2 separate regions of the Homo sapiens genome follow, and region 2 is linked to region 1. Evidence: fine-mapped expression QTL. Tissue or cell type: cerebellum. Region 1 holds a variant in brackets; the other region holds the start of a gene. All regions are shown on one strand. Distances are between the middles of the regions.

Region 1 (8,104 bases):
GCTTAGAATGCCTTAACCTCTTGGTAATGCAGCCCAGCAGGTCTCAGCCTTATTTTACCCAGTCCCTATTCAAGATGGAGTCCTCTGGTTCAAACGCCTCTGGCAGAGCCACTTTACTGAGGACACATAGTAAGGGGTGGAGTCAGCAGTGAAGCATATTACAAGTGCTTTGAAACTCAAGCCCTGAGTCTCTTGTGTGATTTCTTAATTTCACTCTCTGATCCTTAGTTTCCTCGTTGGTAGAATGGGACTGGCCCTGGTGCCCCTGCTACATGGAGTCTGTGGGATTCAATGAGAAGATTCCTGGCCTGGCGTGGCTCATGCCTATAATCCCAGCACTTTGGGAGGCCAAGGTGGGTGGATCACTTGAGGTCAGGAGTTTGAGAGCAGCCTGGCCAACATGGTGAAATGCTGTCTCTACTAAAATACAAAAATTAGCTGGGCGTGGTGGTGCACACCTGTAATCCCAACTACTCGGGAGGCTGAGGTAATAGAATCACTTGAACCCAGGAGGCTGAGGTTGCAGTGAGCCGAGATTATGCCACCGTGCTCCAGCCTGGGCAACAAAGCAAGACTCTGCCAGAAAAAAAAAAGAGAAAAGATGCGTGTAAAAGGGCTGACTGCTGAATCCAACTTAGTCACTACTCAGTAAATGTCAGCTACTACTACTATTATTACTGAATTTCTTTTTGGAATGTTGATAGAGAACCATTACCACTTAAACCTGGGGAATTTTTCCTTGCTGTGGAAACAGGGCTTGACTTTCTAAAGATTGTGCTCCCCTCTCATGATGATTGGTGACTTCGTTTACTCATTTATAACATGTTCTGAACATCCACAACTTTGGTCCGTTTTTTTTGTATATGCAAATTTTTTGAGATATAGATTGAATGGTAGAAATGGAGAATTAATATTTGCATGAAAGGATTAATAGTTTAAAATCTTGTTTTTAACCATAAAGCAACACATTCATAAGCTGTAAAACTTACAAATGGGTATGAAATGTAAACGCCTACCTCCTTACTTACAAATCCATATTTAATGTAATTATAGCTGAAGATAATCATAGCTATTATTTCTTTTTTCTCAGATATTTGTATGTATATACATACATGTATATAAATATATGTATAAACGTGATTCTAGGAATTTTCACTTATAATGATATTGTATTCTACCTTTTTTTCCTACTTAAAACAGTTTAGTTTGGATACTTTTCATATCAAGACATAGAAATGCATTGGTTCTTTGGAACAGCTATGTAATATCCCATTTTACAGAGCCACTATAGTTTATTTAATCCTCTCTTGATGGGCATTTAAATTTTTTTTTTTTTTTTTACTATTACAAATAATAGTATCATGCTACTCCTATACAGTATATATTTGCCGCCTGGTGAAAGCGTTTCCTTGGGAAAAATTCCTGAAAGGAGAATTGCTGAGTTTAAGAGAATGTGCTTGTTAAATTTTAATAGTTATTGCCAAATTGCTTTCCAAAAAGTTGTAGCAATTTACATTTCATTAATAATACATGAGTGGTCCTGTTTCCCACACTCTTGAGTAAGATCAACATTTTACAGTAGTTCTCCTTTATCCATGGGATTATACCATGCTGCACAATTTAAAATGTATAAGTTGTTTGTTTCTGGAATTTTCCATTTAATACTTTGTTTTCTGAAGTTTTAGTTACCCTGGTCATCTGCAGTCTGAAAATACAAAATGGAAAATTCCAGACTGTGGCTGACCAGAGGTAACTGAAACCTCAGAAAGTAAAACCATAGAATGGGGTTGGGTGGGGTGGGTGCAAGCTCCAGTATTTTTGCAAAATATACAAAGTGAAAAACAGTATCTTGTTTTAACTTACATTCCTTGATTTTTTTAGATAGCTAAAAATGTTATGTGTTTATTGGCTGTTTGCTTTGTTTTTGTTGCAAACTTATTTTTCTATTGAATTGTTCAGTTTTCTGTTGCTGATTTTTTAATTGCTTTGTATATAAAAGAAATTAACCCTCTTCCTGTTATATAAATTGCAGACTTTTTTTTTCTATCCTGTGGTTTATCTCTTGACTTTACGGTATTCTAGTCTTGAAAAAGTTTTAACTTTTATATAAGTAAATTTATCAATCTTATCTTTTATGTCTGTCACTTTTCCCCAGTTAAAAATTATGAGAAAAAGATCAATGATTTTTCCAGTATTGTTATGGTTTCATATTTTACATTCAAGTTATTGATCCACATAGAATTTGTTTGGGCATAAGATACTTCTGCACTTTTTCCCCCAATGGCATGTTCATCACAACATTTCTGAATTATTCATATTCTCCCATTAACTTTAAAATACCACCTTATTTATATTTTATTTTATTTTATTTTTTTGAGACAAAGTCTTACTCTGTCACCCAGGCTGGAGTGCAGTGGCACAATCATGGCTTACTGCAGACTTGACCTCCAGGGCTCAAGTAATCCTCCCACCTCAGCCTCCCAAGCAGCTGTGACTACGGGCATGCACCAGCACACCCAGGTAATTTTTATATTTTTTGTAGAGACAGGGTTTTGCAATGTTGCTCAGGCTGGTCTCGAACTCCTGAGCTTAAGTGATACACCCACCTCAGCCTCCCAAAGTGCTGGGATTACAGGCCTGAGCCACTGCACATGGCCTTATATTAATATTAATACTTTAAGTTCTTAAAGGTATTTGGGTCTGTTTCTGGGGTCTTTATTCTCCATTAACAGCTTTCTTATTTCTTATAATTTCTCTACCTATAAAATATCTTAATATTGGATAAAACTATTTCTTCATTATTTCATTTACAGTTGTATTGGCTATTCTCACTCCTCTATTATTCTACAAGACCTTTACAACATTTTGTCAGTCTCCAAAAAAATCCTATTGATATTTTGATTGGAATTACAATTGCTTCAGGGAAAAGAAACTATATTGTTTCATTCACTCCTATCTTTCGGGTTCCCATATTAATCAGGATAGGATGGACTGTTGCAAGAATAATTAAATTTTCAAATCCCAGGGTATTATTTCAACAAAATTTTGTTTCTCACTCATGTAAATTCCTGTGCAATTGGGCCACTCTCCAGGACAGGGGTCCTCACTTTAGGGGCCCCACTGTCCAGGCTGTTTTGATCTTACAGCTCTGCTCTCTCAACATGCTGAGGACGATGGAAGAGATAACTTCCGGTCCTGTCTAGTTAGGTGGAGTGGTAAAACCAATCCTGGTCAATGGACTT[T/C]GAGTAGCAGTGATATGTCTCACTTCAGGATCAAAGCTTAGAAAAGCAGGTGTGAATTTTCCCTGTGATCTTTTCCTTTGTTGGTCAATTTCGGAGCCCATGACTTGAGATGACAGAACCAGCGACAGAAATCTTTTCAATAACTGAGCCACTTCATCACACAGGGCAGTTGCCCAGGGAACTCACCTGACTCACATCAGACCCACAGCTTTATTGTATTAAGGCCACTGAGATTCCAGGCGAAAGTTGCTACTGCAATGTGAAAAAACTTATCCTGACTGGAAAAAAAAAAAATGCTGAGGCCAGTAGTGGTAAGCTGTTGAAAAAAAATTAAAATACTGGCTTAGCAGTCAGCTGATGACAGAGAGGAAACTGATATCAGATGCTGGGAAGAAGGCAACACATTTGGTAAAGGTTTTGCTTGTGATTACCTTGCAAGACCATTCACCTATTGTACTGCTGCTATTATATATGTGGTTGCTTCTGGTTGTGTTTGGCAAAGTACTGGGAGGGAAGAGAGAGAGAGAGAGAAGCAACTCCAGAAAGAAATGACCAGTTTATAATGAATAATAAAAGGGAATAAAGATAATCCAAAAATTTGGAGTCTTATAAATTTGAAAAAACCAACTGCTTTTAGATTCAGAATCTGAAGAGTTTAAAGGCTTTGAGTAAAAAGTGCTAGGAAAAAAGAAAAAAAATATATATATATGTATATGTATACACACACACACACATAGATACATACATACATACTTGTGTGTGTATCAGTTGATTAAATGCCTCAGGGCAAAGGTTAGATCAACTTTTACAACTTGTTAAAACTTTAGAGGATTAAAATTACTTAAATCGAGGTCCTGGCCACGAAGGTGCGGGGGAGAGGCAGAGGGAGGATGTTTTGAGGACAAGAAAGCACAAGAATGAAGCAGAAATAAAAGAAGTCCCTCAAACACAATTCTAAATATGGTTATTTGCTCATGGAAATGTCTGGAAGCAGATAGATGGGGCCTCCTGGTTTTTGAGGTAGTCGTTCAGTAGTACAAAGAAACTGTAAGCCTGGTCTAAAAAGCCTGAGGCACCACCCTAATTCAGGGCAGGACGTGGAAAGCTGTGTAGCTCAATACTTCAAGTATGACCAAGGCAGATAATAGAACAGAAAGGACTTCCCAGAGGGTGGAGCCAATGAGCTCTGAGAACTGCCCTACACCCTGGGGGAATGGGCCCTGGAAGTCAAGTTTGTACCTGTGGCCGTGTCCCCGAGCAGAGTTGTTTGAACCCACATTGGGCAGTTGTCCTAAGTTTGACTAATCAGATTCTCTCAGAACTTTGTAACTGAGACTGAGATGTTCTTGTTTCTTTGAGAAGTTTGCTTGTTCTGAGGTAATAAGAACGGAGGACTTTATGGGAGTGGCCATCTTTTACCTATCAAGTGTGCTGAGAATGCTGTAGAGAAAACTGGTCTTTTCTGTAGAGAAGAGAAAAGAATACTTCTTGTGGAGAAGACATGAGAAACCATATTTATGGGGGCAAGGTGCAGGCAGTGGGGCAGGGAAGAGGGAGAGGGACACAGAGATTTGAAACATGATTCTGCCTGTTCCTGAGAGCTTTCTAGTCTCCTGGCTCCCCCAGGGTCAAGCTCCTATAAGGACCAGCTGTACTCCTATAAGTTCCAGGAGGCACCCATGTATCATTACAGTCCATCTCCTTTTCTTGTTTAAGTTTGTTTGGGTTGGTTTCTCTTTCTTAAAATCAAAAGACCCTTGACTGAGGAAGTGCCCGTATCTTATCACTGCAAAACATCTCCAGGAAGGAACCTCCCCTTCCTTCCTGCTGTGTACGTTGTGGTCACAGCACGACAGTGAGATTTCTCAGTAATCCCTGATTTCAAAGTAATTACAGGGGAAAAGGAGTAGCTGAAAAATTGGCTCATGCCTCCATCTCCATCTAGAATGCCCAGTGTTAAGGATGACCTCTTTAATAACAACACTGAGAACAGCAGCAATAATATGAAAAGAAAACATAATGATTCCTATTGTCCTTAATTTCATACTCAGGTTAAGGAGGAGGAGGAATATTTACTCTTTATTTCCTTTATCAATTCACTCTCCTGCTCTCTGGAAAGGTTTTCTACCTTCTCATTCTCCTACTTAGAGCGTCCCTTCTCTTTCCTTACTCTCAGCTGATGAACTTATTTTTTATTCCACTGAGAAAAAAAGAATAACTAGGAGATAATTTTATTATCCTTCCAGCACCAAATCTACCAAACTGCCAGCAAGGTACCCATTTACTTGGCCCTCCCTCCTGTTCCTATCAGTGCTTAAAGTTCTATCAAAGCCCAATAGAACTTCCTGAGATGATAGAAATATTCTGTACCTGTCTCTCCTCAAGGCAAAGCCGAGAGCCACACATAACTATTGAGTGATTGGAACATGGCCAGTGAAATTGAGGAACTGAATTTTACATTTTATTTAATTTCAATTAATTTAAATGCATATAGCCATATGTGGCTAGTGGCTGCTGTGTAGGACAGCTGAGGTATACAGAAGTCTTTTGAGGAGTTTTGCTATAAAGGAACAGAAAATGGGGTGGATAGTCACAGAGGGATGGGGGTCAAAGCAACAGCACTTTAAAAAAAAAGGTAAATAACATTTTAGCATGCTGGTAGGAAGGATTCATAGAACAGACAAAAAGATTACACAGGAGAGAAAGAAGGGTCAGTTGCATGTCTCAAAAGAAAGCATACACATAGCCAATAAGTGCACGAAAAATGCTCAACATCACTGATCATTAGAGAAATGAAATCAAAACCACAATGACGTACCATTTCACACCAGTCAGAATGGCTACTATTAAAAAATCAAAAAATAACAGATGCCGGTGTGATTGCAGAGAAAAGGTAATGCCTATATGCTGCTGGTAGGAATGTAAATTAGTTCAGCCACTGTAGAAAACAGATTGGAGGTTTCTCAAAGAACTCAGAACTACCATTCGATCCAGCAGTCCCATTGTTGGGTATATATCCAAAAGGAATATAAATTTTTCTACCGAAAAGACATATGCACCCATATGTTCACTGCAGCACTATTCACAATAGCAAAGACATGGAATCAACCTAGGTGCCCATCAATGATGGACTGTACAAAGAAAATGTCATACATATACACCATGGAATACTATGCAGCCATAAAAAAGAATGAGATCATGTCTTTTGCAGCAACAGGGATGCAGCTGGAGGTCACTATCCTAAGCAAATTAATGCAGGAACAGAAAACCAAATACCACACGTTCTTACTTATAAGTGGGAGCAAAACATTATGTACACATGGACACAAAGAAAAGAACAATAGACGCTGGGACCTAACTGAGTGGGGAGGATGGGAAGAGGGTGAAGGTAAAAAACCAACCTGTCATGTACTGTGCTAACTACCTGGGTGACAAAATCATTTGTACACCAAATCCCAGTGACATGCAATTTACCTGTGTAACAAACCTACACAACTACCACAGAGCCTAAAATAAAAATTGAGAAAGTAAAATAAATAAATAAATAAATAAATAATGCTTAGAAACAAACAAACAAACAAACAAAAACTAGAAGAAGAAAGAAGGCTCAATTATAAAAGGAAAGTTGATTCTAGATAGGAGCAGGCCATTGTATATAGATGCACTGTCTAATATAACAGCCACTAGCCATACGTGGCTATTTAAATGTAAATTGATTTAAATTTAATAAACCTCTAAATTTAATTCCCCACTCACACTAGTCACATTTCAAGGGGCTATCATATTGGATGTAATTTCCATCATTGAAGAAACTTCTTTTGGACAGTGTTGCTGTATACTTTCTGTCTTCATTTTATATCATCATTCCATGTTTTGAAAAAAGTTTTAAACTTTTAAATCAAATTTATATAGGTGCATAGATTAGAGAGCCAAAAAGTGCTGCAATTGACAACTTTTCATTCCTTCTCCCTATTTTTCACTTCCCAAGAAATTGTGATCAAGTCTTTTTTTTTTTTTGAGACGGAGTGTCACTCTGTCACCCAGGCTGGAGTGCAGTGGCGCAATCTCAGTTCACTGCAAGCTCCACCTCCTGGGTTCACGCTGTTCTCCCGCCTCAGCCTCCCAAGTAGCTGGGACTACAGGCGCCCGCCACTACACCCAGCTAATTTTTTTTTGTGTGTATTTTTAGTAGAGACGGGGTTTCACCGTGTTGGCCAAGATGGTCTTCATCTCCTGACCTCATGATCCGCCCGCCTCGGCCTCCCAAAGTGCTAGGATTACAGGCCTGAGCCACGGAGCCCAGCCTCGAGTCTTTTAGCTTTAAAAAAATTATGGCTATAATTCTAAATAATTTTCTTGTATTGCTTCCTCTCTATTATTTTCCAAGTTTTGGACATGATCCTGACTTCTTTAAGGAATGCGTGGATTCAGCACTCCCCACACCCCTTCCTAGTCACATCTGTACACACATGTACACTTCCAGTCCCCCATCTCCCCATAGAGTCAAAGTATTTTTATGGTTAGATCAGTATTCAGTGTTTTCATTATTATGAAAAAGTGACTACTTGCAACCAAGCCATGTGATAAATCATGGTTACTTTTTATTTAAGATCTTTCGATGTTCCCTAAAGTTAATATTCTTTTTTAAAAATTTGCTTAGCTATGTAAGCAGTTATCAGCAATTTGACCCCAGTCCTCTTCAGAAGTGTGGATGTTCTTCCCATATGTTCAAATATATCAATTTCATCTTTTTGGAGCTATGTTTTCTGGAGACTTGCTTCGATCTGCTCAGGTTGCTCTCTGAGGCCGCTGCACGGTTGGCACCCTGGAATCCCCGTCACCTACATCCTGCGATTCCCGTC
Region 2 (8,104 bases), 460 kb before region 1:
AAGAAGGAGAGGAAAAGGAGAAGAGAAGGTCAAGTAGGCCCAGAGTCCCAAAGGGAAGCAGATTGGGGTGCCCTCAGGCTTTGTGCTGGCCGGAGACTCTAGGGAAGGCTCAGGAAGCCAAGGCACGTCTTTTGGGGCCAGTCTCTTCTGCTAGGTGTTCAGCTGAGAAAGCTATGAGAGGCCTGGACTCAAGAGCTTTTTAAAAAAAGGCTCCCCACGGTAACCAGGCTAGAAGAGAGAGAGGTAGCTTGCATTTCTCTGTCTCATGTCTCTAAGGTTCTTGGAGGCTTTCTAATTTATCCTGGTAGGGGACATGTGACTTAGAAACTGGCTTAGGACTCTGCCATGAGGCGGGGTCTGGTAAGTAAATCTGGCAGGGGAAGGAGAGACACAGTCCAGCTTTCCCAGATGCAGGTTGCACATGCTGTCTTTTTCTCTGACTATATGTTGGAGGCAGTGAGTCCTGGTGTGTAGAAAGCCACATGTTGGGCACTGTGTGGACAGACAGGCAGGGAGATAGCCTCTTAATTCAGATCACTCAAAACTCAGTGATGAGTTTAAAAAGAGAAAGAAGACTCACAAATAAATGTATGCACAATGCACATGGTAGAAATGAGCATAAAAGGGCCTGGCTTTACTACAGAAATAGCTACAGAAAAGCTACGGATATGTGTGTGTTGGGGGTTGGGATCAATTGTGGAGCTAGACAAGGGAGATAGCAGGCATGTCGCTGGGGGTCTGCAGTAACCAAGCAGTTTTTCTGGAGTCTGTGGACACCAAAGAGGCATTTGGAAGGAGGATGATCTGGCTTGGAATTGAGGGCTGGGGATGACATACCTAAGGTGGAACAGCATGTGTCTTGGAGAGTCAGCATGGGTAGTTATGGGGTGAAAGAATGTACTGTAGGTGTCCAGCTGGAGAAGGGTTCTTGAAAGTCATGAACATCTGTCCCAATTCAACAAATAACTCACATCAAGTTTGAATTCTGTGCAAGACACTACAAGAAATGCACCCATGACCAAGGCAGTAGCTGGACTCAGGGATATCCACTCTTGAATGCTCTTGGAAGGAAGAGAGTTGAGACAAGTAGACTAGGTGGGCGAAGGTCAATGTATAAAGACCACACAGTTCAGGGAAGAATTCCTCTTGGCTATGGGAATCCGGGAAAGCCTCCCGGAGAAAGTGGTATGCCACTTTCTTTTTCTTCCAGTCCTTCCTTCCTTCCTTCCTTCCTTCCCTCCCTCCCTCCCTCCCACTAGATAGGGAGTGGGTCTTGAGGATTGGAAAGATTTCAACAGAAGGAGAAAGGGGCTGGGAGGACATTTCTTTTGGAGGCAGCATGATGAGCGAAGGCAAGGGAGTGTGGAAGCGTGAGGACAGGATGGGAAGCAGCTAGCAGCCCAGTCTGGCAGAAATAATGATAGTAATAATAGTGACTAACACTACTGAGCCCTAAGTACCAGGAGGCACTGGGCAGGGATGTGTATGGAGTGTGGTGCCAGGTTGTAGGAGGACTTGAATGCCAGGAAAGGCTTTTGGGAGGGTAAGTTAACAAGCGCAGAGGGGTTGGATCTGCCTGCCGAAGGAGAACTGGGACAAGGAAAGGGGCTGAAGTAAGAAGTCCCACGCTGAATATGCCGGTAGCAACAGATAGTGAGTCCCGAGCTGTGCCTGAGGGAAGGGAATAGAATCTATGGTTTGAAGTTCACCGCCAGCATGGCCAAGCCCTCCTAGGCCACTGTGGGCTCTTGCTTCCAATCAGACATGACTCCACCTCTGGGGCTGCCTCAATTTTTCCTTCTCTGGATTCTTGGGGTTTCTTAGGATTGCGGGAGATAGAATGGGGTCAGGGGAAGCTGCTCCTTGGTTTACAATGGTGGCGCCTCACGCTGCAGAGAGCCCAGTGTTCCTGCGTGGTGGACCTCTCCCCTTCCTAGGAGCAGCTCCAGATTGCTGGAGGCAGACACGGCTGACCGGCTAGCCCAGGAAGCACAATGGCGAGGTCCTTAGCCCCTGACCCCTGAATCTGACCTTCTCTCCAGCTAAAAGCGGAGGGAGAGGCAGGGAGGGCCACTGCCTAAAGCCGGCCCTGAGCTGAGTTTATTAGCTGAGGGAGGGCTGGAGGCGGCTGCATTCCGACTCACAGACTGGAACATTTCTGTGATCCGCTGTAATGCACTGGGGGACACTGGGCACATTGCTGAAGTTTGACTCATAGGGACCGGGAGGGGGAAAGAGGGGGGTTGTGGAGGGAGAGGAATGGGAGGAAGAGAGGAAGAGGAGAGGAGGGAAGGAAGTCCCTTGAGAAATTTCTTTAAAAAAAGAAAACTTTCAAAATCTGCACCACCCCCACACCCTTTTTCTTTTAATAGGAACAGGCTGGACCCTTCCGTTCCCCTCAGCAGGCATGGTGTGTGTGTGGGGGTGCCAGTGGGGGAGGGCTGGGCAGTGATTCAAATCAGATCCTGGAACTTTCCTGAGGCAAGTCGTGCTTATGTGTGTGTGTGTGTGGTGGGGGGTGTCCGTCTGGGATTCCTTGTATGGGACATGGGACACCACGCGTGTCCCACTGTGCCCGCGTGTGGCTGCGTGCTTGTGGGCTGTACGGGTATGTAGTGTGTGCACGGGGGTCCACCCCGAAGCCCCAGTGTGTGCTGTGTAAATGATTCTGCCCCTTGTAAACATGGATGCGTGCTCGTGTACGTTGTGTATGCGAGGGTGCGTGCGCCCAGGTAGCTGGGTTTCCGGGAATTGTGCACGGCTCGGAGCGCCTCGCGGCGGCTGGGGCTCGGAGCCGCGGCCGGCGTTCCGGGTTCGGCGCTGCCTCCCCGGCAGTGCGCCGCGCCCCGCCGCGATCTGGCCGCGCGCGGTGTCTGCGGCCCGCCTGTGCGCCGCGCGGTGCAGTGTCTGCCGGGGTGGTGTGTCCCAGGGCCGCGAGCGCCTGCCCCCTCCCTCCCCTCCCCCTTGGCCCGCTCTCAGACTCAGATAAAGCATTTCCTTCCATTGTCATCCTACCCGGCCGGCCGGGCTGCCAGGGCCCTCCCCCTCCCGGCCCCCTCCCTTCCTCTCGCCGTCTCACAGTCGCTCTGCAGCCTCCGGCGACTGGGGGGATGTGAGGCCGGCGCCCCAGCCCCCCGCCCCGCCATGAGCCCCCCGCTCTGAGGGCCCCGGCCCCTGGATGCACAGCCCCGGCGCTGGTGAGTACTGGGCGGCCGCCCCCCGCCCCGCCCTGCGCGCGGCACCCAGCGTCGCCCGCCCAGGCTCGGCCTCCGGCCCTGGCCCCGGCTCCGGCTCCGGCTCCGGCTCGGGCTCCCGCCAGCCCCGCGGGCCCAGCCCGGCTTGCGCCCCCCGACCGCGCCTGTCCCGCCCGGCTCCGCGGGGCTCTGGCAGGCTCCGGGTCGGAGCTGGTTCCGGGGGCCGGAGGGCTCGGGCCTCCCGCGGGGCGCCCACATCCGCCCGCCCCGGGGCAGCTACAGGCCCAAGGGAGGGAGTTGGAGGCCCCGGCCGCCGGTGTGCGGGCCCCACGTCCCATCACCCCTGTTCCCGGGGAGGACGAGCCGAGGGACCGGGGAGGGAGGGACGGCCGCGGTGGCCCGGCGAGGGGGCGGTGCTCCGGGGCGGAAGGTTTGGAAGCGCGAGGGCAAAGGGCAGGACCCACTGAGTTGGGGCTGGGCTTTGTGGGGCTGGACATCAGCGCCCCCATCCCGTGGAGCCGGGCAGGGCCCTACTCAGATCCTTCGGCGGGGAAAGAGGTCCCTTGGAGGGGTCTCTGGCTGGGAGGTTTCTCTGAGCATTGCCCCCCATCCTTGCTCACCCATCAGGGTGAAGAGACACCTGTGCCCTGGTGAGCTGTGGAGGTCAATGCCGGCAGCGGCGCGGGAAGCGGGGCGCCGCAGGCTGTGTGAGGGGTGGGGGACAGGATGTGCACCCCCCAGGCCTGGGGTCTGTTGGTGTTGGGGAGTGTGAGAGCAGGCGGCAAATTTGGCGGATGGGCTGGGTTCCCACGACCAGAGTTTCTAGGCCTGTGGGCCAGGAGAGAGCCCTCTGGGGCCCGCAGGCCACCCAGTGCCCCACCCCCATTGCTTCCCGCTGTGGCTGCCCGTTTGGGTCTGACCTCCCCAGCCACGGCTGCTCCTCACTCCTTCTCCCCGCTGGCTGTCTTGCGCACCCAAAGGCCTCCCCCTGCATCTGGACACTGGCTGTCTCGCTGCCAACGCTCCCTGCCCACTCCCCTAGGCAACATCTGCCTGAGGCCCAGCTCTGCCTGCCGCTTTCTAGGGTGAGAATGGGGCATCGGCCCTCAGCGGCCCTGCTGGGAGCTCAAGATCAACTTCTCAGCCTGTTCCCTGGACTTGCATCTGGACCTGTGGGACCTTCCTCAGGACCCCTATTCAGCTATAGGGCTGGCAGGAGACTGTGACTCAGGTCCCTGCCCTCCAATGAGACGCTTTGGCGGCCCTTTCCCCCTCCCAGGACTCCATAGGCTGCTAGGCTGCCGCTACCCATGGGTTATTAAGTCATTTTCTTCTTCTCTGCAGTCATTTCTGAGGGAAACTAAGGCACAGAGTAGTCCCAGTGAGTGGTACCCAGCCCAGTGAACCTAGACTGGAACCAGGTCTTGGACCTATTGGGACTGGTCCTCTGCCTTTAGTCCCCTGATGTCCCTCCTTGCCCAGCAGGGCCAGGCTCAGAGGCAAGCTCAGAGCTGCCTCCTGATGTTGCACCTGGAATGGTCCTGGTGCAGTGTTCTCCAGAGGCCTCTGTGTCCCTTATTCGGCGGGTGTCTCTGTGGCCACCGGGTCTTACAGTGGGTTTTGGGGCAGGGAAGTTTGCATGTCTAAGCTGTTCACTCCACTTTGACACTGAAGTTCAGTTTCCCCATCAGTAAAATGGGGAGAAAATTCCAAGCACACTTCTCAGAGCAGAGCAGAAGAGGTTGACTATGGAGAGGAGAATGAAGGTACTGTGCTATTATCCACCCCCTCCAGTTTGCTTAGGGATAATGGACCTCAGCTTTAGTCCTTGGTGGCCTCTTGGCATGGAAGCTGGAACTTTCTCAATTCTGATATAAAACCCTTGAGCAAGAGAGAAACTCATGTGTGATGGGGTAGGGAGTGGGGACCCTCTGGTAGCTGTGGGCAAGCATGCCCAAGGACTTGGAAGACAGAAGCCTGTGGAACCCCATCTCCTCTTTGCCTTCTTTCTCCTGGCCTTTCATTAAGGGCTGGTAATTTTGAAGTCGGCAGGGGCCTGAGAGAAGGTGAGCTAATGCAAGGCCCAGGGTCACACAGCCAGGGAATGGCAGGCGGAGGGGGCCAGAACCAGGCCTTCTCACTCTGCCAGTGCCCATTCTGCTGGCCCACCCTCCACAGCTTGGCTCTCCCTGGCCTGCCCTCAGTTAGACTTCGGACTGAGGCCTCCAGTGGGGTGTGGGGTATTGCTGGAAGCAGGGCCTGAATAAAGTCTGGGGCTAGCGGGAGGGCATCTGTCCTCCCGGAGGCTCCCAGGACTGTGCATTTGTGTGTGTTGGATTTGTTCACTAGATGGGGCACTTCCTTTGGGGCAGGAAGCTTTGATTTCCTGTGGTGATGGTGAGGAGGGGTTGGTAAGGATTAGGAGTGGGGGGCTCAGCTCTGGGCCATCCTCGATGTTGTTGTTTGGAACCACGGAGGGGCAGAGTTTCTGCTTAAGACTGCTTCTCCCAGCTCTGGGGAGGCAGGAAGGAGAGCCTTGGTGAGGAGGCCCAGGCCAAGGCTGGAGAAGGAGGCTGTGAGAGCAGTGAGCTGGGGGTGGGCAACACAGCAGGAAGCCCGGTCAGCAGGTGACCCTGCCGGGTATTGTGTTTCCTTGTAATATTTTCCCCCTGTTTCTGTGGTAACCTTCCCTGGAGGCCCCAGGCCTTAGGGCTACAGGAAGGTGCCCCCAGACAGCCCTTTCCTTAGAGGCCTGAGTATTAGGAGGAGTCCCCAGATCTAGCCACCTCCCTAACCCTTTTGGCTCCCTAGGATCAGGGGCCTGGGAATCTAGGCGAGTGGCCTGAGTGAGCATGGACTCGCGGGCTGGGGGAAGGCCCTTTGGCGTCTTCTGGGGGGAAGGGAGAGGGAAAGAGGGGAGCTGGACGCCCGGAAGGGCCCTGAGCAACTTGAGTCGCTGGCCTAGCCTCTTGTTTCCTCCCAACCCATCCCCACTGCCCTCCTCCAGTCTCCCTCCTCCTACAAGGGAGAGGTGGGTAGCATGCTGCCTGGGGCAAGGGGCAGGGGTGGGGGTGGCAGAGGTGGGAGGGATGTTTTCATCAGCAGAGCATAGCTCCTTTGGTCCTGGACCAGTTCCCAGAGGCAAAATAAATTCAGGACAGCGTCTGTTTAGTGTGGGTCTGCATGAGATGTGTGTGAGCACACACTGGGTGCGTGGTGGGTATCTGTGTGTGTACCCCTCCCCCCAGACCCTGTGTATGCTGATGTGGTGGTTCCGGGCAATTTGTGATCTATGTGGTGGTTCTGTGTTGGGTGTTTTGGGAATATGCACACATAAAAGACAGATGTGCATCATCTGTATGGTGCACACCTTTTCAGGTTATGGCCCTGTGTGGGGTAAACATGTCCATATGTATGGACATGTTTTTTGGGGGTATATATCTGGGCAGGAGTGGCTTTTTAATAGAAGTCCAGATGCTGGCTTGTAAAACACCATCTCATTTGGGATTCTCAAATGCGGGTTCCTGGACCATTTGCTTCAGAGTCACCTGGGGAATGTGTTAAAGATAAAGATCCTGGGCCGGGCGCGGTGACTTACGCCTGTAATCCCAGCACTTTGGGAGGCCGAGGCAGGTGGATCACCTGAGGTCAGGAGTTCAAGACCAGCCTGGCCAATGCGGCGAAACCCTGTCTCTACTAAAAATACAAAAAATTAGCCAGGTGTGGCGTGCGCGCCTGTAATCCCAGCTACTCGGGAGGCTGAGGCAGGAGAATTGCTTAAACCCGGGAGGCAGAGGTTGCGGTGAGCCAAGATCACGCCATTGCACTCCAGCCTGGGTGACAGCAAGACTCTGTAAAAAAAAAAAAAAAAAAAAATCCTGGCTGGACGCGGTGGCTTTGGGAGGCTGAAACAGGCAGATCACTTGAAGGCAGGAGTTCGAGACGAGCCTGGCTAACAGGGCAAAACCCCATCTCTACTAAAAATACAAATTTAGCCAGGCATGGTGGCGCAGGCCTGTAGTCCCAGCTATTTGGGAGGCTGAGGCAGAAGAATTGCTTGAGCCCAGGAGGTGGAGGTTGCAGTGAGCCGAGATTGCGCCACCTCACTCCAGCCTGGGCAATAGAGTGAGACTGTCTCAAAATTAAAAACATTCAGATCATCAGGCCCATTCCAGATTGACTAGTCAGAATCTGAGGGGTGGGGCCTGGGAATCCAGATTTTAACAGGTGCTTCAGGTGATCCTGGGGCAAGGCTGTGTTTGAGGACCACTGCCCTGGGTCAACCTCTTCATTTTTTCTTTTGAGGAAATAGACCCACAGAAGGTATGTAGTTTCTCTAAGGTGACAGGGCCATTAAGAGGAAGAACCAAGAGAAAACTCAAGGCTTCTAAGACCTGTCCAGGACTTTGTGCTCACCCATGTACCCCCTGTGTGTGTGTGTGCATGTGTGCTCATAACTACACTTTGTGATGACGTGGACCCGATTGGGCTGGTGCTAATTGGGGCTGATCTTTCCTCTGGGGTCCTGGCTTTCTTGTTTTCTGACCTTGTTCTTCTTGCTACATTCTGCTGCCTCCTTTTTGGAGAAATCCTGGAACTGTTGAGTGTCATCCCTAAAGGTCAATGTTGGCAACCAGGGAACCATGTTGCTGAGCCAGTCACTCAGCAATTCATCCATTCACTGGATCCTAGCTGAGCCTTGCAATGTTCTAGGCACTGGGTACAGATATGCAGTGAACACACAGGCACAACATCTGACCTCAGGGAACTTCCACTCTCGTGGAGAAGACAAACAGAACAAGTAGGCAAGTAAAGGAATGAGTATGTGTGACTAGTTACACACTGTGATAAGCCCTAAGAAGGAAATGAACTGGGCATGGCAATAAAGAATAACAAGGTGGGACTTCCTT

What was found. PIP is the estimated chance that this variant, and not a neighbour inherited with it, causes the effect.
Region 2: it holds the start of HDAC7, and the variant in region 1 is fine-mapped to the expression of HDAC7 in cerebellum (GTEx, PIP 0.93).

Annotation. Positions count from the first base shown.
Region 1 is chr12:47,357,843-47,365,946 of GRCh38, reverse strand. All of the region lies in intron 1 of LINC02416 (long intergenic non-protein coding RNA 2416), which reads right to left. It overlaps MIR4494 (microRNA 4494), which reads left to right and starts at 1,678; the gene lies at 1,678-1,761. RefSeq lists a silencer at 4,316-4,365. The variant T/C (reference allele first, on the strand shown) is at 3,243.
Region 2 is chr12:47,814,860-47,822,963 of GRCh38, reverse strand. It overlaps HDAC7 (histone deacetylase 7), which reads left to right and starts at 3,061. Exons shown (of 26, transcript NM_015401.5): 1 at 3,061-3,197. The coding sequence starts at 3,179. RefSeq lists enhancers at 1,299-2,220, 3,559-4,132, 4,850-5,510, 5,757-5,866 and silencers at 2,771-3,110, 3,251-3,330, 3,341-3,650.